Homo sapiens: one gene and its partners. The protein of the gene in region 2 interacts with the protein of the main gene of each other region in a pairwise test. Each region holds a gene or a part of one and is shown on either strand. Other genes may lie near its edges.

Region 1 (7,427 bases), on a different chromosome or scaffold from region 2:
GGTCACTTCAGGACCGTCTCTGGGTTCCCTCCCAGTAAGTATATTTAACCTTTATGGAAATGTATAACACGAACATAATTTGTATAAGTTTGTATTAGTAGCATGACTGATTGATTCATTGAATAAGAGATGGTGTCTCCTTGGAGGGGAAAAGAACATTTTAAGTCAATCATGAGACAGACCTGGTTTCAAACACCAGCTTCCCCACCTAGCTAGCTGTAACTTAGCATTGCTGAGTCTGTTCTTCTCTTGTAAGAAAAGAAAACAGATTCAGTGGAATTTTGGCTGTCCCATATTCAGCTTTGTTTTCCATTTTAATTAAGATTTATTTTTTATTCAGAAATAAGATTCATAAACAAAAATATGTGGCAATTGAGATTTAGGTAGTAAAAAGCCTTAAGTATCTGCCACAGTTTTTGGAAAGTTCCTACTTAAAGATATACAAAAACAGGATAGGTCAGTCTGGGGTCATTTAGAGGGAATTTGAGCCAGAAGTGAATAACTTCCCAAAGTGCCTTTTAAATAGAGCTGCCAAAATATCTGTATGTGTATATCAATCTGCTTGCTATTTCAACTAAATGGCTGCCAGAATATGAATACACTTATTAAAAAAAGTGTATATCAATCTGCTTGCTATTTCAACTAAATGGCTGCCAGAATATGAATACACTTATTAAAAAATTTGATGGGCTTCATCTTATTTACTGCTGGAAAATAGTGCAAAACTTATGCAAAAATAGCAATTTAGTGCATAAGGAACAGGGAAAATGATTGACAGAGGAAGCCTTGCTTACTTAATGTTTATTAGAGGAACAAGTTCAGGAGCTCAACACTGAATGTAACCCATGTAATTGTATTTGAGATTAAAAGTTTAATTGGAGTGAAATTTCAAGAATTTGGCCTACTGAAAAAAGACCATAGCAGAACTCCTCATATTCCTTTGGTAGTTTTTAAACAGTTCACAAGAATCCACCACTACCCTGTGGCTGACCTCAGACATTATTGCATGTCTGTTATAGAACCTCCATCATTTGTAAACTTTATACTTCAGCTCTACTTGAATTAAAGAACCACACTGCAGCATGTCTTATGCAGTGTCTTTTTTTAAAAAAAAATTTTTCTCAGCCTGCCGCAATGGAGTCTATGGAATCCTTAAGACTCAAAGATAAAAATGAGCCTGTTCAAAACCTACCCATCCAGAAGAGTATTGATGATGTGGATTCAAAACTGAAAGGAATAGGAAAGCCAAGAAAGTTCTCCAAATTTAGTCTCTACAAGCAGCTCCACAGGCACCACCTGCACGACGCAGATAGCATCAGCAGCATTGACAGCACCTCCAGTAAGTCATGGCCTTGACTAGAATTTATCTTAACTACCCACTGTTCTTCCATAGCCAGACACTACATACCTGTTTTTAAAATCTGTCTTTCTGTAATGGAGTAGAATGAGCAATGTTGAGAGGTCGCTATATCATTCTATTCAACCTCATGCCATTTGGTGGCTTTGTTTGCCTCATTTTAGAACAGATTTATTGTTTTATCCACACAAAAGTCATAACGACCACGATTACCACTTCTAATGGTAGCAGAATGACAAAGGGTTTCTAAAATATGCCAAGCCATAAAAGAAAAAGGTATTAGATGTACTTTATAAACTTTTCTTAGAAGAAATTACATTTATCTTCCTATCCAGAAATATATCAAGCTTATTTCGTCAAACATCAGACTTTCTACATCTTGTAAATTTACTATTCCTTTGAAATCCATCTTAAAGCCCTACAATTTTCTGTTGCACAGAATCTTAAGACTGATGTTATAGCCCTGCCTGGTTTTAAAAATGATCAGCTTTGCTTTCCAGTTTAGAAAATTTGATATTTGTATTTTTTTGTAAAAAAATTCTTAATTTCTCTAGGTTATTTTAATCACTATAGAAGTCATCACAATTTAATCCATGGTTTAAAACCCCACTTCAAACTCTTTCACCCGTCCAGTGAGTCTGAGCAAGGACTCACTAGACCTCATGCTGGTAAGTAATTTGTGAAGTGGCAGAACTCCCTTAGGCTTGAGCTTTGGTTGTGTTGTCTGCTGCATGGGCATAGTGAATGTGTTTCCAGATTGGCTTTCTGTTTGCAATTTTTATGCTACGTATATTATTGAGAGCCTGCTCTGTGCAAAGCATTCTGTAGTATCCAAGATCCCTACTCCCTAAGAACTTATAGCAGCAAAGACAAAACAGACCTAATAAGAGAAAATGCATGGCACATGCAATTCAATAGTGTCATGGAAGTTCTATGGAAGGAGGGAGGAATTCCTCTCTGATGATGCAGAAAGACTTTTTGAGGAGGGGACATTTGGGTTAGGCCTGGAAGTAATTTAATTGGGGTAGGTGATAGGAAGTCATTGCAAGTGAGGGAGGTGAGTTGAGCAAAGGTGCTGGAATGGGAAAGCACCAACTGCTTTCAAATTGTGTAAAATGCATTATTTAGCTAAAATGCAGTTTTTGATATAAGACTAAGAAGATATATGACATTCACATTTGGGAGCTGGAATTTTATTTGGTTAAAAATCTTTTTTTTTTTTTTTTTTTGAGATAGAGTCTTGCTCTGTCACCCAGGCTGCAGTGCAGTAGGGCCGTCTTGGCTCACTGCACCCTCCGCCTCCCAGGTTTTAGCGATTCTCCTGCCTCAGCTCAGCCTCCTGAGTAGCTGGGATTATAGGCGTGCATGACCGTGCCTGGCTAATTTTTGTACTTTTAGTAGAAATGGGGTTTTGCCATGTTGGCCAGGCTTGTGTTGAACCCCTGACCTCAAGTGATCCGTCTGCCTTGGCCTCCGAAAGTGCTGGGATTACAGGTGTGAGCCACCGCTCCTGGCCAGTTAAAAATCTTGAAGGCCTTTGGGTGGATGTGTCATGCTGTGTGAATTTTCAGAAATTACAATCTGATAGCCTTTGGTAAGAAGATACTCCAGATACTCGAGGAATTAATGAATGACTAATAAGTTTAACTTGTGGTGGGAATAAAGAAGGATTTGGCCGCTGGTCAGATATGGGGATAAGTAATCATCATAATAAATGACACTAGTAAGATCATAAGCTAACATTTATTTTGCACAGACTCTATCCATCACTGCCCTGAGTAGTTGCAGTGCTTGGTAGTGATATTGTCATCTCCTTTTTACAGATGAAGAAACTCAGGGTTAGAGATGATACATGACCTGCCCAATGGAGTTCCAATTTATCATCCTCCCAGTGCCCATAATTAAGACCTGTGATTTAGCAGAAATAAAGATTACTATGTTATGCTTTTTTGGCTAGAACCTAAGGCCAGGGCTCTCATGTCCTGTTTAGCAGATGAGAGTTACAGTCTAGCTCACATGCCTGAATGTGAGTCACCTGTGGCTTGCAGGTGCTAATGAACCTGAAAAATTATGCTAGACTTTGAGTAATGATTCCCAGCATTCTTTCATCTAGGGCAGGGGTGTCCAATCTTTTGGCTTCCGTGGACCACATTGGAAGAAGAATTGTCTTGGGCCACACATAAAATATACTAACACTAATGATAGCTGATGAGCTAAAAAAAGTTGCAAAAAAAAATTACAATGTTTAAGAAAGTTTGTGAATTCGTGTTGGGCCACATTCAAAGCCATCCCGGGCCGCATGTGGCCCACAGGCTGTGGGTTGGACAAGCTTGGTCCAGCTACGCTGCATTTTAAAAAATGCAATAATCAACTACACACAATGAACTAAAACTTCAGTGTAACTGTTAAATAAATTTGTGTCTATAAATCATAACAGCATCGATATATATTTAAGAATGGAGAAGAGGCCAGGTGCAGTGACTCACACCTGTAATCCCAGCAATTTGGGAGGCTGAAGCAGGAGGATTGCTTGAGCCCAGGAATTCAAGACCATCTTCGGCAACGCAGTGAAACCCCCTCTCTACAAAAATTAGCTGAGTGTGGTGGCATGCATCTGTTGTCCCAGCTTTTCTGGCAGCTGAGGTGGGAGAATTGCTGGAGCCTGGAAGGCAGAGGTTGCAGTGAGCTGAGATCATGCCACTGCAGTCCAGCCTGGGTGACAGAGGGAGACCCTCTCTCACACACACAAAAACAATTTTTAAATTTTTGAAAAATAAAAATGGAGAAGAACAAATATGGGGAGACATATATTTATTTAGCATACACCTAGTACTGGGTGTATGTGTGGATTCAGGGACAACTCCCAGTAATTCCTGTGCATGACAAAGCTTCAAAGTCCTGGGAAGTAGGAGGCCTCTGGGAAATCTAGGAAGCCAGGTCAAGAGTGCATGCAGTGGCCGATATTAGAGGTAAAGGGTTGGAAACAGCTCCAGGTAGTGCCTTATCGTTTCAATGTGTAACTTTGCTGCTTTATTACTGAAGTTAAAAATGAAGTGGAGGAAAGGAGGTTGCCAACCCATGAAGATTATGGATCTGAATTATGACTGATAGTGTTGCTGGCAATAGGATTGACAGCAAGTGGAAAAGATGTGAGTGAGGTGCTGAGTCCAGTAAGTAACTCACGCCTACCCCAGGTTGACAGAGGTGATATCCACAGTGGTGATCTGAGACACTGATCATACATGTGTATGGTGTTGCTGATGAAAAGTACCCTTGACATCTGTTTACAACCCCTCACTGATAAACTGAATATATGTCTAGTGTAGCATTGTTGAGAGACAGAGAGAGAGATAGAGAGAGAGAACAACCTAAACGTCAAAGAGTAGGGAAATGGTGAAGAACATAATGAATGGTAACAAATGGTTCATCTCTTTTATGGAATTGGGCAATGATTACAACTGTAGTTGGGGATACAAAAATAAACATAGAAGATTTATTTATTTAATTAAATAAGTGTTTATTGAGTTTCTGTTATATGCCAATCACTATTCTGGGTGCTAGAGATGTGGTGAATAAAACAGATGAAGTGCAATTAACTAGTTGGAGGGTAAGGATGGGAACTGTGTATACAAATAGAGAGTCAAACACATTTCAGGTGGTGATAATTATCACGGAGAATAGTTGAGCATGATCCGGGAGGAAGAGCATAGGAGAAGAGTTACTATTTTGTAAAGGCTCATCGGAGAATACATCTCTCATGAGGTTAGTTTTCAGCTGACATCGAAAGAAAGAGAAGAATGAGGATAAGAAACTGAGAGAGGGTGTTTCCGACAGAAGGAATAGCAAGTATGAAAGGCCATGAGGTAGAGGGGTTGGGTGTGTTCCAGGAATACGGCTGTAGTGAAGTGGGCTAGGAGAGGATGATAAGAACAAAATCAGAGAGGTGGGCTGGGGTGGGTTATGTGAGGTCTTGCAGACCACTGTAAGATTTTGACCCTGAGTGAGATAGGAAGTCATCGGATGGTCTTGAGCGAAGGGTAGGCGAGGGCTGACTTACATTTTCCAAGGATCATTCTTCAGAGCAGACCAGGGTGGCAAATGGTGACTCTGCAGGTTGTGAATATATTTTGAGGGTCGAGCTGACAGCATTTGCCGATGAACTAGATACAAGATGTGAGAGATGGAGAGGACTCCAAATCTTTGGCCCCACTGGAAAGATGGAATTTCCATGAACTGAAATGAGGTGGCTATGGGAAGAGCAAGGAAAATTTGAGGACAATTGCCACTGTATCAAAATATGTTCGTGAAGGCAGCTGACAAAGGACATTCAATGATGCTATCTTTGTTAGGAAGATGGAGCGTGAGGTGATTTATTTTTTTCCCACATTGTTGGTACTGTTTTCATTTTACTTTTATAGTCAAATATAAATACAAATTTAATTTTTTAAAATGAAAACAGTTTACCTAAAAAGAAAAGCCAAAGGATCATGGGGTCCTTCTAGAGCAGTGCTTTCCAAAGTCGATTCCTTGGATCCTGGAGTTTTTAAAAGGCTTTGAGGAGAACATTGAAGTAGGTGAACCCCAGGACCCTCCCACAGCTATTGGTACCTCTTCAACCAGAACAATCCCACTTGTATCTGTTTTAATTATTGGAGTTCCTTCTGAACTTGTTTTCAAAAAAGAAAAGTTCTACTAAAAAAATGAAGGAAGTTTAAAGAGCAAGGCTCTAGATTTAAATCATGTAATACCTTAAAAACTCAGGTTGCCTTATAAAACTTGAAACCCAAATTAAGCATGGAGTGACTCTTCGTTAGAAATTTAAAACTGAATATGAACTTGAGTTAATGACTTCCTTTTCCTGAGAATGCAAAGAGAGTTAGCCTCTCTGCAATATCAATTTCACTTGACCGCATATGACCATGTTGAATTGGGCTCCTTGTTGAATTAAACCTCCTGGTGTCATACAGAAATCAGTGTGGAGTGAACATCACTATGGGTTTTTATATAGAAAAACTGCACTAAAAACGTGGTTAGGAATCATATCTGAAATATATGTTTTTCAAAATCACTCAGTCATTTTCAAGATTTTTTTTCATTCAGAATTATGTTCTAAGAGGGAGAATTTTGCTTGATACTATTTTTAAAGTGTTGAATTTTATTCCCTTTCTTTCTTTCTTTCTTTCTTTTTCTTTCTTTCTTTCTTTCTTTCTTTCTTTCTTTCTTTCTTTCTTTCTTTCTTTCTTTTTCTTTCTGTATTATACTTTAAGTTCTGGGATACACGTGCAGAACATGCAGGTTTGTTACATAGGTATACAAGTGCCACAGTGGTTTGCTGCACCCATCAACCTGTCATCTACATTAAGTGTTTCTCCTAATGCTATTCAGCAACTATGTGCTGATCTTTTCCTTTTAAGCAATATTAAATAGGTAAGTGAGGGAAAAATTATTTTTGCAATTTAGTTGAGACAGGCTTTTCAAATTTGAATGTCTCGTCACAAGGGATAATATTAAGCTGTTTCTAAACTGTTCTTAGGAATGCAATGGATAGGATGTGTAAGATTCATCTAGTGCTGTTAAATAGCTTGTTATCTAATAGGTGAGCATGAGTTTTAAATATTTTACAAACCTAATATTTTAGTAATTCATTGAGGGAAGATACTCCTACTGCAAGAGTCATCATTGATCCACAGACGAAATACAGGTCTACAAACCCTTAACCACGATTCTAAATTCCAAAAAATTTTGAAAACCAAAATATTTTTTAAAATATAACTTGTTCAGTGCCTGTATTGGAACTGGCCTTGAACATATGTAGAAATTCGGTAGGTAGAGACTAAAAAGGTAGAAAAACAGGCATTTTAGGTAGATACTACATCTTAAGACCCAGATATAGGAAATGCAAAAGTATTTATTTCGGCATCTCAGACTGAGTGTAGAATGTGGTAAATACATATAGGTCTATAATCTCTCATACAAAATCCTTGGAATCAGATTTCAGAAATCAGAAAGTTCTGGATTTTAGAAAGGTAATACAATACCTATACCCTCTACTATATTACACTCCCAGCAG
Region 2 (7,427 bases):
CTAAAGCCACATTATGTAAAAGGCACTTACCACCAGCAATTTTAAGGAAATCTTCACCTGTTGCTTTGTAAACCTGAGAAAAGACAGAGAAGTTAGTGTTTCTGAGCCTTCCGTCCTATGTTAATTCTCATTCACGATGTCCAGGGGTTCAGGTTTTGAGGACATACCTCAATATACCGGGTCCCCATGTGATGTTTGTGCCTCTGTAGTGCTAGGTCTCGGTGCTCCTCACTTACAAACCTAACCAGAGCTTCTCCGTTCCTTCGACCCTGAGCATTCAGACAAAGTGCTGCACCTCCCCTTTGAGAATAATAAAACAGACAGCAGGTAGAAAAAAAAATACAGTGAGGAAAAAAAAGATAGAAAATCCATTATCCCTTTGGGATTGTTAAGTAAAATAGATATTTAAGAAAACCAACTTGGCAATATTGAGTCCTTTGAAGAATCTTGCAATATCTTGATCTGAAGACTGCCATGGTAAACCTCGTGCCCTGACTACGGTGTTATCATCAATAAGTTCCATCTTGCTGCTGTGGATGAAGCAAAACTTCAGGTTGCATGATAAATGCTAGCAAGTCAGACACCTATTACCCCCTGCAAGACAACTGCCTAGTTACACAGGATGTATTATTTGGTGTTCAGACAGACTAGCAATACTACTTGATTTTCCTTATAACCTCAAAAATTATGTGGGTACAACTCAAAGTACTGTTTAGGTGGTTCATTATAGAAACATGGCTGCCTGTGCAGGCCCAACACAGCTAGCTCACTCAGCAAACCATCTATCTATCAAAGCTGAGGAAGGCCAGGCGTGGTGGCTTATGTCTGTAATCCCAGCACTTTGGGAGGCTGAGGTAGGTGGATCACCCGAGGTCAGGAGTTTGCGACCAGCCTGGCCAACATGGTAAAACCCCGTCTCTACTAAAATTACAGAAATTAGCCGGGCATGGTGGTGTACGCTTATAATCCCAGTTACTTGGGAGGCCAAGGCAGGAAAATCACTTGAACCTGGGAGGTGGAGGCTGCAGTGAGCTGAGATTGTGCCACTGCACTCCAGCCTGGGCAATAGAGCAAGACTCCCTCTCAAAAAAAAAAAAAAAAAAAAAGCTGAGGAAATGTTTGCTTGGCACCCTCATGTCCTGAAAGTTCCTAGAACCCCAAAAGATAGGTTTGAATTCATTCTCAAATCTAGACAGTATACATGTGGGGTTTAAATCCAGTTTAGCAGCCGAATTTAGGATCAGAATAAAGCTGACAATTAACCCACATGAGGAATGTGTGTGCATGGTAGGAAGTCTGCCATTAAAATATCCCCCAGATCAAACCAGGGAGCCATCCCAGAGAATGTCCATAGAAATGCCTGTGAGTCCCTACACCTTAATGACTCATTTGCAAATCACTTATTATATATTTTGACACCTTTTGATGTCTTATCCCTCCCACGTTCACATTTTCAGTTCTCCTAGGACATTTTCTTAATAAGTCACTTTCTCCACAACTAATCGGCCTCAAAGTCTCTCTCTATGGGCAAAGCTGTCAGAAGTTTCTATTCACTTCAGAGACCAAGCACACACTCAATTCATTAGAGTGATTTACAAACAGGTCTACCTGCGATCACTAACAGACACCACTTCATACTTCTCCCCAGCTATTTCCTTGGCTTTAAAGTAGAAACCTATATAGCCAGGCACAATGGCTCACACCTGTAATCCCAGCACTTTGGGATGTCAAGGTGGGTAGATCACATGAGGCCAGGAGTTTGAGACCAGCCTGGTCAACACGGCAAAACCCCATCTCTACTAAAAATACAAAACTTAGCCAGGCATGATGGTACACATCTGTAATCCCAGCTACTGGGAAGGCTGAGGCACAAGAATCGCTTGAACCCGGGAGGCGGAGGTTGCAGTGAGCAGAGATCACACCGCGATATTCCAGCTGGGCAACAGAGCAAGTGTCTCAAAACTAAAATAAATAAATAAATAAATGTACTTATAGAATGTACGTAAAATTTTATCTCAGTAAAAATTGTGAACTCTATTAAAGCCTACAATTTCTCCTTTGGAAATTTTCTAAATGAAAGATCGGATAGTTTGGGGAGACCAAAATAACAATCACAGATATGAGCATATAATATACTTAAGGTCAGGGTGACTAAAGATGCCAGTAAGTCATTACATTTTATTCCCAATATCAAGCTCTAAGTAATACAACCTTCTTTTACAGATGACCGAACAGCAAGAAAGGATAGCTAAAAGGATTAGTAAAGTTTCTCAAATATAACAAGAATTAAGAGGCACAATATGAACAAAAACAAGTTAAAGGCCGGGCGAGGTGGCTCACGCCTGTAATCCCAGCACTTTGGGAGGCGAGGCGGGCAGATCACGAGGTCAGGAGATTGAGACCATCCTGGCTAATATGGTGAAACCCCATCTCTACTAAAACTACAAAAAAATTAGCCAGGTATGGTAGCGGGAGCCTGTAGTCCCAGCTACTCGGGAGGCTGAGGCAGGAGAATGGCATGAACCCGGGAGGCGGAGCTTGCAGTGAGCTGAGATCGTGCCACTGCACTCCAGCCTGGGCGACAGAGCAAGACTCTGTCTCAAAAACAAACAAACAGACAAAAAAAAAAAACAAGTTAAAAAGCTCAAATAAATAGTACTCAAGCACTTACCAAGTTCCACTTTCAAACTTGTAATTCACTCTCTCTGGATCTGAAAACCTGTGATCTAAAAATGAGAACATAAAAGTCATCATTTTAGTGATTAGGGAGACAAAGTTGTAGGAGGAAATTTGAGTATAGGTAAGAGAAAAATAGTATGAATTCTGGGACTGCACTACTATAAAAGCAATACTTACTATAAGGCTCTGAAATCATTGCTAAAATTATATTCCCCATATCTTCAACTTGAGAGGCTCCATATCGAGAGACTGAACTACTCTTCTCAAAATTTAAATCTGTGAGATTAAATTAAGGAAACACTTTGGAAAGGTAAAATCAGGTTACTTCTAAATCAAAATTAAACCTATACCAAGCCAAGAGGAAGAAGATGGATCTAGCTGAGCTTCCTTTAGAAATCTCAGAATGGCTGCCTCCCATCAGTCAGTCATTCAACTTAGGCTCCAACTGCCCTTTTGGGTAAAAGAGGCAAATCAATCCAGTGCTGAGATATTACCAGGAATACAATTTTTATTTACCCAGTTGTAGCAAATGAATACTGAGCATTTTCATTTCATTTTGAATCAAAGTATGCAACAAAGTTAATTAGAATATTTCATCCTCTGAATCTTTACAGCACACACAAGGCAATGACCATGCCGACTTCATGATATGGTGACATTATCAACACTACAAGGTATTAAATGACTTTTTTTTTGGCCTAATGTTTGAAATGGACACCACAGATTATTGATGTGACATTACTTCCACAATGCCACTTTTGCTTAGAAATTCTATTATAGAACACTTTTGGAGCCCTGTAGGATAGTCCACCTTTGATGACAGCAGATGCTAGTTCTAGACAGCAAATTTTGGAAACAATTCAAGCACTCAGAGCCAACACAGGCCAATGTGCTTCTTTACCAAAAGTATACTCTTTGAAACACATAGCTCAAACTTGGTTTGAGGGTGAAACCAGGAATTCACATGAAGTTTTGCGAATCTCTCTAAAATAAGGATGTATTTCCATCAAATAGAGGCATACCTTGAAAATATGGTAGGCTTGGTTCTACACCACTGCATTAAAGTGAATATCACAATAAAGCAAGTCACACAATTTTTTGTGTTTCCCACTACATATAAAAGTTATGTTTTGACTGTTCTAAGTATTCAATAGCATTATGTCTTTTAAAAAATGTACATGCCTTAATTCAAAAATGCTTTGTTGCAGATGGGCACAGTGACTCACACCTGTAATCCCAGCACTTTGGGATGCCGAGGCGGGAGGATCTCTTGAGACCAGGAGTTCGAGACCAAGCCTGGCCAATATGGTGAAACCCCATCTCTACTAAAAATACCAAAATTAACCAGGCGTGGTGGTGCATGCCTGTAATCTCAGCTACTCAGGAGGCTGAGGCAAGAGAATCGCTTGAACCCGGGAGGTGGAGGTTGTAGTGAGCTGAGAACACCCCACTGCACTCCAGCCTGGGCGAGAGGTAGACTCTGTCTCCAAAAATAAAAAACAACAGAACAACTTTGTTGCTAAAACATGTTAATCATCTGAGCCCTCAGTGAGTCAATCTTTTTGTTGGTGGAGGATCTTACCTAGATGTTGATGGCTACTCATAGATCAGGGTGATGGTTGCTAAACGTTGGGATGGCTGTGGCAATTTCTGAAAATAAGACAACAATGAAGTTTGCCACATCAATTGCCTCTTCCTTTCATCAAAGATTCGGTAGCCTGTGATGCTGTTTGAGGGCACAGGCAGAGTTGACTTACTGTAATTCTTGGTTTTCTTTGGTTTTTTGTTTGTTTGTTTGTTTTGGTTTTTTTTTTTTTTTTTTTTTTTTTTTTTTTTTTGAGATAGTCTCGCTCTGTTGCCCAGGCTGGAATGCAGTGGCACAACCTCAGCTCACTGCAACCTCTACCTCAGCCTCCCGAGCAGGTGGAATTACAGGCACGCGCCACCATACCCAGCTAATTTTTGTATTTTTATAGAGATGGGGTTTCACCATGTTGGCCAGGCTGGTCTCGAACTCCTGACCTCAGCTGATCCACCTGCCTCAGTATCCTAAAGTGCTGGGATTATAGGCGTGAGCCACTGCACCCGACCTCATTTTTGTATTTTTTAGTAGAGATGGGGTTTCACCATGTTGGCCAGGCTGGTCTTGAACTCCTGGCCTCAAATGATCTACCTACCTTGGCCTGCCCAAGGGCTGGGATTACAGCCATGAGTCACCACCCCGGCCAATTTAGCATAATTCTTCAGAACGCTAGGATTTTTAGGACGGTTAATGACCATTAGCTTTAACTTAAAAGTCACCAGCTACATTAGCCTATAACAAGAGAATCAGCTTTTGAAGCAAAGCATTGATTTATCCTCTCTAGCTATGTTAGTCCAGGATGGCATCATCTTCTAAGAGAAGGCTGTTTCTAGTACATTGAAAATCTGCTTAGTGTAGCTGCCTTCATCAGTTAGCTAAATCTTCTGGGTAACTCACTGCAACTTCTCCATAAGCACTTTCTGCTTCACTTTGAATTATGTCGTAGAGCTGACTTATTTCCTTGAATCTCATAAACCAATCTCTGCTAGCTTTTCTTCTGCAGCTTCCTCACTTCTCTCAGCCTTCATAGAATTGAAGAGACTTAAGGCCTTGCTCCAGATTGCGCTTTGGCTTAAGGAAATGTGGTAGCTAGTTTGATCTATCCAAACCACTCACACTCTCTCCATATCATAGCAATAAGTATATTCCATTCAAATTACACTTTCCTCTCTTCTATAAATGACAAGTGGTACCCAGCCTTCTCATCTTTGCTCAGGTAACACCCTATAATGTTTTGCTTTCTTATCATTCATATATTCACTGGAATATTCAAGAAATTTTCCTTTACGCAACTTGACAAATCATTTGGTGCATAAGGCCTGGCTTTTGGCCTCCCTTAGCTTTTGACATGCCTTCCTGACTAAGCTTAATCATGTCTAGCTTTTGATTTAAAGTGAGAGATATGAAACTCTTACTTTCATTTGAAAGGTTAGATGCTGTTGTAGGGTTAATTGGCTTAATTTCAATATTGTGTTTCAGGGAATAGGGAGTCCCAAGGAGAGGGAGAGAGATGGGGTAACCACCAGTTGGAGCAGCCGAACACACACAACACTGACCAATTAAGTTTGCCACCTAATATGGCCCTGCTTTATGGTGCCCCAAAACAATTACACCAGTAACAAAGATCACTGATTACAGATCGCCACAACAGAATAATGAAAAAGTTTGAAAGGTGACAGAGAGACAAGTGAGCAAATGTTGTTGGAAAAATGGTGTCAATAGACTTGCTGAATGCAGAGTTGCTACAAACCTTCCATTTTCTTTTTTTTTAAACAAAACAAAACTGGCCAGACACGGTGGCTCACGCCTGTAATCCCGGCACTTTGGGAGGCCGAGGTGGGAGGATCATTTGAACCCAGGAATTCAAGACCAGCCTGAGATAGCGAGTCCCCATCTCTACAAAATAACAAATTGGCCTGTCATTGCATCTACTCAGGAGGCTGAGGTGGGAGGATTGCTTGAGCCTGGGAGGTCGAAAAGTACACCACTGCACTCCAGCCTGGGTGACAGAGCAAGATGCTGTCTCAAAAATAAAAGATGAAAATTTAAAAAAAGACAAAATACAACAACTGTGAATCACAATAAAGTGAAGCACACTAAAACAAGGTGCACCTGGGTGAGCAGACCCTAATGTGCTCCGCAAAACCTAACATTGACTTTCTAGCCCCTTATAGCAAACGGTTATTGACCTGTGACCTATTACAGAAGAATGGAGATTGCAAAAAGATGGCCAGATACAAAGGATGCCACAGGAATGTTTGTCAATCAATCTCAAAAAAGAATATGGGGAAAATTTAGACTTGAAAGGAGTATAAAAGTATATTCCATTCAAATTAAGCTTTCCTCTCATCTATTAATGGCAGGATTACCTAGCCTTCTCAACAGTGCTCAGGTACCACCCTATAAGGAAAGCACTCTTATCTTAATCCCCTAACCAAATTAGGCCACAAATGACCCACCAAAACTGTTCTAGGCCACAATCGTCAATTTAAGAGTTCATTAGATACTATTCCTAAAATGTTATGCTATTTTCTCGACTGTTGTAACATTTCCTGGGTGTAGGCCCCCATCTTCCTCTGATCTCTTTCCACCTATCAACATCTCTATAGCTTCCAAGGATCTGCTGACTTAAATGGTGGCATTTACTGGACACCATTTTGTGCCAACCACTCCCTATTTCTTCCAATTCTCATAATAACCCTGACAGATAAATTACAGCAAAACCAAACAGTTGTAGAACTAAGATTTAGTGAGGCTAGGCATGGTGGCTCACGCCTGTAATCCCAGCACTTTGGGAGGCCGAGGTGGGTGGATCACTTGGAGGTCAGGAGTTCGAGATCAGCCTAGCCAACATGGTGAACTCCTGTCTCGACTAAAAATACAAAAATTAGCCGGATGTGGTGGCGGACGCCTATAATCCCAGCTACTCAGGAGGCTGAGGCACAAAAATCGCTTGAACCCTGGAGGCAGAGGTTGCAGTGAACCGAGATCATGGCCGCTGCACTCCAGCCCGGGTAACAGAGCAAGACTCCATCGCAAACAAACCACTGGGATTGAGTGATGTTCAGTAGTTCACCCAGTCACCTGGCTGATGGGTAATGGAGGTGGGATTACACGAAAGCTATGATTTGACTATTGAGCAATAGTGTGAGAGAAGTTTTATAAA
Region 3 (7,427 bases), on a different chromosome or scaffold from region 2:
TGGCGACAGAGCAAGACTCCGTCTCAAAAAAAAAAAAAAAATTAGCCAGGCATGGTGGCATGCACCAGTGGTCTCAGCTACTCAGGAGGCTGAAGCTGGGGGATTGCTTGAGCCCAGGAGCTCGAAGCTACAGTGAGCCGTAATCATGCCACTACACTCCAGCCTGGGCAACAAAACGAGATCCTGTGTCAGAATAAAAAAAAGGGCGGGGGGGGACCAGTCTGGGCAAAAACTGGAAGGTGCAGAGCCTTTTCATCAATAGTTCTTCAAAAATGGGCCAGGCACGGTGGCTCACACCTGTAATCCCAGCGCTCTGGGAGGCCGAGGTGGGCGGATTACGAGGTCAGGAGTTCGAGACCACCCTGGCCAACATGGCGAAACCCTATCTCTACTAAAAATACAAAAAATTAGCCAGATCGCTTCTCTGCCTTTTGGCTAAGATCAAGTGTAAAAAATTAGCTGGGCATGGTGGAAGGCACCTGTAATCCCAGCTACTCAGGAGGCTGAGGCAGGAGAATTGCTTGAACCTGGGAGGCGGAGGTTGCAGTGAGCTAAGACTGAGCCACTGCACTCCAGCCTGGCAACAGAGCGAGACTGTCTCAAAAAAAAAAAAAATGGTCTCAGCTCCTATGCCAGTATCCTCTCCTAACTCCCTGCCCCTACCTGCACTAAAAGATAGTTGAGGAGGGGGAGGTTGGTTAACCACAAAGAAGGGCGAAGTACTCCAGACTTCTGCCATGGCCTGGTCCAAGTCAGGCTCTGTCCGTCCTCCTTGGAGGTTGGAGGTGGCCTTGATAGCTTGTGACAGTCAAGAGCCTCTGCTCAGTTGGCCGTGAGTTGACTGACAGCCAAGGCAGATGCGCCTAGGCAAACGCTCCCACCACACCCAGGCCCTGCTGCACTCCAGAGGCCTCCAACGCTGATACAGCCACCAGTGCACTCTTCAGGAAGGGAGGGCCCAACAATCCTGTCACCTGTCTAGTGTTGGCACGTATCAGAAGTAACCGTACTCTCTCCATCAAAGGGTGGAATATGGGAAGAAGCAGAATACAAGGAGGCTATGCCAGTGCCTGGACAGGCAGTGGACGGGTTCTGGCATATGAAGCCTCATAGGCTGCCCACAGTTCTGACTTAATGGTGGCTTTTTTTTTTTTTTAAGATGGAGTCTCGCTCTGTATCCCAGGCTGGACTGCATGACGCAATCTCAGCTCACTGCAAGCTCTGCCTCCCGGGTTCACGCCATTCTTCTGCCTCAACCTCCCTAGTAGCTGGGACTACAGGCGCCTGCCACCACACCCGGCTAATTTTTTTTTTGTATTTTTAGTAGAGACTGGGTTTCACCGTGTTAGCCAGGATGGTCTCGATCTCCTAACCTCGTGATCCACCTGCCTCAGCCTCCCAAAGTGCTGGGATTACAGGCCTGAGCCACTGTGCCTGGCCTGTTTTTGTTTTTTGAGACCAAGTCTCATTAAGTGGCCTCCGCCTCCCAAGTTTAAGCAATTCTCCTGCCTCGGCCTCCTGAGTAGCTGGGATTACAGGTGCTCACGGCCACACCCAGCTAATTTTTGTATTTTTAGTAGAGATGGGGTTTCACCACATTGCCCAGGGTGGTCTTGAACTCCTGGGCTCAAGTGATCCACCCACTTCAGTCTCCTAAAGTGCTGGAATTACAGGCATAAGCCACCGAGTTTTTCGGTTTTTTACTTTTTTTTTCTCTCTTTTTTTTTGAGACAGGGGCTCTCACTCTATCACCCAGGCTCAAGTGCAGTGGTGGGATACTGGCTCACTGCAGCCTCGACTTCCCGGGCTCAAGCGATCCTCCTACCTCAGCCTCCTGACAGGCTGAGACTACAGGCGTGTGCCAACATGCCCAGCTAGGCAGCATCATTTCTGAAGTGTAGGGGACAGGTTCTGCCCCACTGCCTCATGGTTTGCCAGAGGCGTGTGGATCCTTCTGTGGCAGCCATGGGCGGAAGACAGAGGAAGTGACGTGACACCAGATGTCGCTGCTGCCCATAACCAATGCCAGAGCAGATCCAGAACCCAGCACTGTAGTTCAGTTCTGGGTAATCTTGGACCAGGAGCTCAGTACTCAGGGCAGGCAGGACTCACCCTGCCTCCAGCTCGCAGGATTGTCCTGAGGCCCCGAAGGATAAAAGGGTTCAGAGCATGAGAGCCAAGCAAAGGCTCAGCACCCACCAGCCATGGCTTCCTCTACTTACGGCGCTTGCCAGTCCCACCCTGGACATGGGGAGGAGGAAGCCAGCATGTCCCAGCCTTGAGTGGGATTTTTTTTTCTTTTGAGACAAGGTCTCGCTCTGTCACCCAGGCTGGAGTGCAGTGTGGCACGATCTCACTGCAACCCCTGCCTCCCAGGTTTAAGTCATTCTCCCACCTCAGCCTCCTGAGTAGCTGGGACTACAGGCATGCACCATCACACCCAGCTACTTTTTTGTTTTTGTAAGGACGGGGTTTAATCATGTTGCCCAGGCTGGTCTTGAACTCCCAGGCTCAAGTGATCCTCCTGCCTTGGCCTCCCAAAATGCAGGGGATTACAGGCATGAGCCAACATGCCTGGCTGGCCTCCTTGAGTGGGATTTAGAAACTGGTTCTCTCTGGGGCAGACTAAACAGATTGCCCGTATGTGGAAAAGGAAGGGATAACGAGACACAAAAGAATGTCCCCCAGAATATCAGCCAAATGGCTCTTTAGAGCAAGAATCGTTTCTTTAGTTAAAATGCCCAAAGCAATGGGTAGTGGAGGAGTGTGTGAAAGTAGTCACGCCCAGGTACAGGAAATAAGTAAGTGTGCCATTTGTAGAGAATTTAAAATAAAACTGCTTGGGCGTGGCAACTCACATCTGTAACCCCAGCAGTTTGGGAGGCAAGGCAGGACAATCGTTTGAGGCCACAAGTTCGAGAGCAGCCTGGGCAGCAAAGCAGACACTGTCTCTACAAAAAATTAGCCGAGGCCAGGTGCAGTGACTCAAACCTATAACCCAGCACTTTAGGAGGCCAAGACAGACGGATCACCTAAGGTCAGGAGTTCGAGACCAGCCTGCCAACATGGTGAAACCTCATCTCTACTAAAAATACAAAACTTAGCCAGGTGTGGTAGCGGGTGCCTGTAACCCCAGCTACTCGGGAGGATGAGGCTGAAGAATCACTTGAACCCAAGAGGCAGAGATTGCAGTGAGCCGAGATTGCGCCACTGCACTCTAGCCTGGGCAACAAAGCAAGACTCTGTCTCGAGGAAAAAAAAAAAAATTAGCTGGGCATGGTGCTGGTAGTCCTACCTACTAGGGAGGCTGAGGTGGGAAGATCATTTGAGCCCAGGAGATCGAGGCTGCTGTGAGCTATGATCATGCCACTGCACTCCAGCCTGGGCAACAACAGAGACCCCGTCTATAAAAAAAAAAAAAGGAATTTAAGGCCGGGCGCCGTGGCTCATGTCTGTAATCCCAGCACTTTGGGAGGCCAAGGTGGGTGGATCACCAGGTCAGGAGATTGAGAACATCCTGGCTAACACGATGAAACCCCGTCTCTACTAAAAATACAAAAAAATTAGCCGGGCATGGTGGCGGGCACCTGTAGTCCCAGCTACTTGGGAGGCTGAGGCAGGAGAATGGCGTCAACCCGGGAGGCGGAGCTTGCAGTGAGCAGAGATCGTGCCACTGCACTCCAGCCTGGGCGACAGAGCAAGACTTCGTCTCAAAAAAAAAAAAAAAAAAAAAAAAGAATTTTAAAAATATGCAAGATGTGTAAGGATATAGATTTTTTAAAAAAGAATTTAGGTCAGGTGCAGTGGCTCACATCTGCAATCCCAGCACTTTGGGAGGCCGAGGCCTCCCAACATGGAGAAACCCCATCTCTACTAAAAATACAGAATTAGCTGGGCGTGGTAGCACATGCCTATAATCCCCCTACTTGGGAGGCTGAGGCAGAAGAATTGCTTGAACCCAGGAGGTGGAGGTTGCGGTGAGCCGAGATCGCGCCATTGCACTCCAGCCTGGGCAACAAGAGCGAAACTCCGTCTCAAAAAAAAAAAAAAAAAGAATTTAAAAAATAAAATCCATCCTGGCTAACACGGTGAAACCCCATCTCTACTAAAAAATACAAAAAATTAGCCGGGCGTAGCAGCGGGCGCCTGTAGTCCCAGCTACTCTGGAGGCTGAGGCAGGAGAATGGCGTGAACCCAGGAGGCAGAGCTTGCAGTGAGCTGAGATCGCGCCACTGCACTTCAGCCTGGGCGACAGAGCGAGACTCCATCTCAAAAATAAATAAATAAATAAAAATAAAATAAAACTGGCTTGGTTTGTTTATTATCTTCGTGCAATGGCAACTCTAAATCATATCTGTGATAAAAGGCCCCTCCTGGCAGGGGCTGACAGCTCCCATCACCCATCTTGGGATGCCACCAGCCCAAAGGAAACTAGTCCGGAGTCAGCCTCTGGGCTTCTGGTTGGCATCACCCAAAACTCAGCCATTAGAAACTTTAATTGCAGATACCCGGCTGGGCGCGGTGGCTCACGCCTGTAATCCCAGCACTTTGGGAGGCCGAGGCAGGAGGATCAGGAGGTCAAGAGTTCGAGACCAGCCTGACCAACACAGTGAAACCCCGTCTCTGCTAAAAATATAAAAATTAGCTGGCCGTAGTGGTGCGCGCCTGTAATCCCAGCTACTTGGGAGGCTGAGGCAGGATAATCGCTTGAACCTGGGAGGCAGAGGTTGCAGTGAGCCAAGATCATACCACTGCATTCCAGCCTGGGTGACATGGCGAGACTCCGTCTCAAAAAAAAGAAAAAAAAAAGAAAATTGCAGATACCTTTCTCCCCCTGCCTTCCAGTCTCACCAAAAACCCTAATATAAAACACAATAGCAGTATACTGTGTGGTTAAGAGCAAACTCTGGGTTCAAATCCCAACCTCCCCACTTAATAGCTACATGAAAGTTATTTAACCTCTCTGTGCCTCACTTTCCTCATTTATGAAATGGTGATAATAATGTAAGTACTTCATAATGCTCTTACAAAGATTAAGAGTTAAAATGGTGCAGAACATATAACAATGCCTGGCATAAATACAACATACAGGTTCATTATTATTAGTACAGCCTCTCCCTTAGATTACTTAGGCAGAGGGGACACATCCACAATAACTCCCAGTGAGGAGGGGAACCTGACCTCCTACTGCTATATGCCTGGCAGGGCTTCTAGGTGAGTGCCCAGAAACAGAGAAGCCTCCATTCCCTCATATTCAAAAAAAGCCTGCAGACCAAGATGTCCCAGATGCTTTCAAATGCTATTGATGTTAAAGAAAAGGGAGGTGCCCAAATAGCACACTGGATCCAGGAATTACCTCGCACTCATCTAGAGTGCCTTATCCCCCACCTCCCACACCCCCCTCCCCGTTCCATCCACACAAGTCTAAGCACCTGTTCACCCACATCTCAGGGAGGGCTGACCTCAAGCCACCCAGTGGTCCCAGGGCTCTGGCTGCTTCCTGACACCCCTCTGAGGACACATGATGGGCTCTAGGATACCAGGCCTGCAAGCAGCAGCCCTGTCCCAGCCACACTGGGATGAGGTGGAAGGGCAGGGAAGGGCAAAGCCCCTCAGGTCAAACTGTAGCCCCCTTAGCTGCCATTAACCCCTGCCTTTCTATAGCTTACCATTAAGCTGGCAAAAACTTTTTTAACTCTTAAGAAACTTATATCCTCCCTCAACCCAATAGTATAAATACCACTCTCCCCCTTCCAGGGGTGCCCCCCAGTTAAAAATTACTTTAACAATCTCCAAACTCTTCAAGTTGTATACACTAAATATACACCTTTATATATGCCAATCATACCTCAAAAAAGTGGTTTTTAAAAATTACTATAACTTAGTATCACCTCGTACCGTTTAGTTGTCCCTCGATATCTGAGGCGGATTGGTTCCAGGGTTCCCCCTTGGATATCAACATCTCCAGATGTTCAAGTCTCTTATATAAAATTTGTATATAACCTATGCACAGGCCGGGCACGGTGGCTCACGTCTGTAATCTCAGCACTTTGGGAGGCCGAGCTGGATGGACCACTTGAGGTCAGGAGTTCAAGACCAGCCTGGCCAACATGGTGAAACCCCGTCTCTACTAAAAATACAAAAATTAGCCAGGCATGGTGGCGTGCACCTGCAATCCTGGAGGCTGAGGCAGGAGAATCACTTGAACCTGGGAGGAGGTTGCAGTGAGCCGAGATTGCGCCACTGCACCCCAATCTGGGCAACAGAGACTGTCTCAAAAACAAAACAAGGCTGGGCGCCGTGGCTCAGGCCTGTAATCCCAGCACTTTGGGAGACTGAGGTGGGCAGGTCACCTGAGGACAGGAGTTCAAGACCAGCCTGGCCAACATGGTGAAATCCTGTCTCTACTAAAAAACAAAAATTAGCCAGGTATGGTGGCGGGCACCTGTAATCCCAGCTACTCAGGAGGCTGAGGCAGGAGAATTGCTTGAACCTGGGAGGCAGAGGTTGCAGTGAGCTGAGATTGTGCCACTGCACTCCAGCCTGGGTGACAAGAGTGAAACTCCCCTTCAAACAAATAAAAAAATAACCTATGCACATTTTCTGGATACTTTAACTCATCTCTAGATTATTCACAATACCTAATACAATGTGAATGCTATGTAAATAGTTGTTATATTTATTTGTATTATTTTTTATTATTGTATTTTTTATCTACAACTGGATTCATGGATAGGGAACCCATAGAAATGGAAGGCCAACAGCAACTGTATTATGAAAGCAAGGTCTCCACTTTCAAAATAGAAATCACATTTACCCCTCTTCAGAGACATGGTAATTACCCAGTTATCCCTTGAGAATCACTAAGACAGGACATTTAGGTCTGAAGTTTGGCAGCACTGATACAGCCTGCCCCGGACAGGTTCATGTACTGTATTACCTCATGTCGTCCCCAGCTCCAGTCAAGACTTACCTGCAGGACAGCACAACCTCTAGATTGGGAGGGACATTCAGCTCCTCCCCTTAATTCCTTACTGCCCTCCTTAGCTTTCAAAGGGTATCAAAGCTTCGAACACATCTTCCCAAGTGGCAGAAAAATGCCAATTTTCCCGTAATACCACAGTCATTACTGCCCTAATTCCAAACTCTCATTATGGCTGCACTGCCTGATATTGCTGCAATATAGCAAACTCCAGGTAGTTACCCAAACAAGCCATGTGGTTACACAAACCTACCTCCTCACTTATACATGCGACTCCCTCCTCTTGGAATGCCTTTTCCACCCCCACAGGTCTAACCTTGCTCCTCCTACTCACCCACATCTCAGGGAAGGCTGACCTCTAATCTCTCAGGAGCACCATGGTACCATGTGCTCATATGCCTTTATTTTATCTATCATTGCATTTCACCTACCACCACTTCCTGGC

Evidence for each region.
Region 1: the proteins of ESRP1 (region 2) and PLD1 interact in binary tests that used the Homo sapiens proteins (3 or more experiments, as listed by UniProt).
Region 3: the proteins of ESRP1 (region 2) and RBPMS2 interact in binary tests that used the Homo sapiens proteins (3 or more experiments, as listed by UniProt).

What each region holds. Positions count from the first base shown.
Region 1 is NC_000003.12:171,681,283-171,688,709, reverse strand, and holds part of PLD1 (phospholipase D1), read left to right. Parts: coding exon 1-34; intron 35-1,125; coding exon 1,126-1,339; intron 1,340-1,911; coding exon 1,912-2,025; intron 2,026-7,427. UniProt on the Homo sapiens protein: Function as phospholipase selective for phosphatidylcholine. Implicated as a critical step in numerous cellular pathways, including signal transduction, membrane trafficking, and the regulation of mitosis.
Region 2 is NC_000008.11:94,657,800-94,665,226, reverse strand, and holds part of ESRP1 (epithelial splicing regulatory protein 1), read right to left. Parts: intron 2,956-7,427; coding exon 2,857-2,955; intron 2,727-2,856; coding exon 2,672-2,726; intron 531-2,671; coding exon 420-530; intron 301-419; coding exon 168-300; intron 74-167; coding exon 31-73; intron 1-30. UniProt on the Homo sapiens protein: mRNA splicing factor that regulates the formation of epithelial cell-specific isoforms. Specifically regulates the expression of FGFR2-IIIb, an epithelial cell-specific isoform of FGFR2.
Region 3 is NC_000015.10:64,765,389-64,772,815, forward strand, and holds part of RBPMS2 (RNA-binding protein with multiple splicing 2), read right to left. Parts: intron 1-7,427.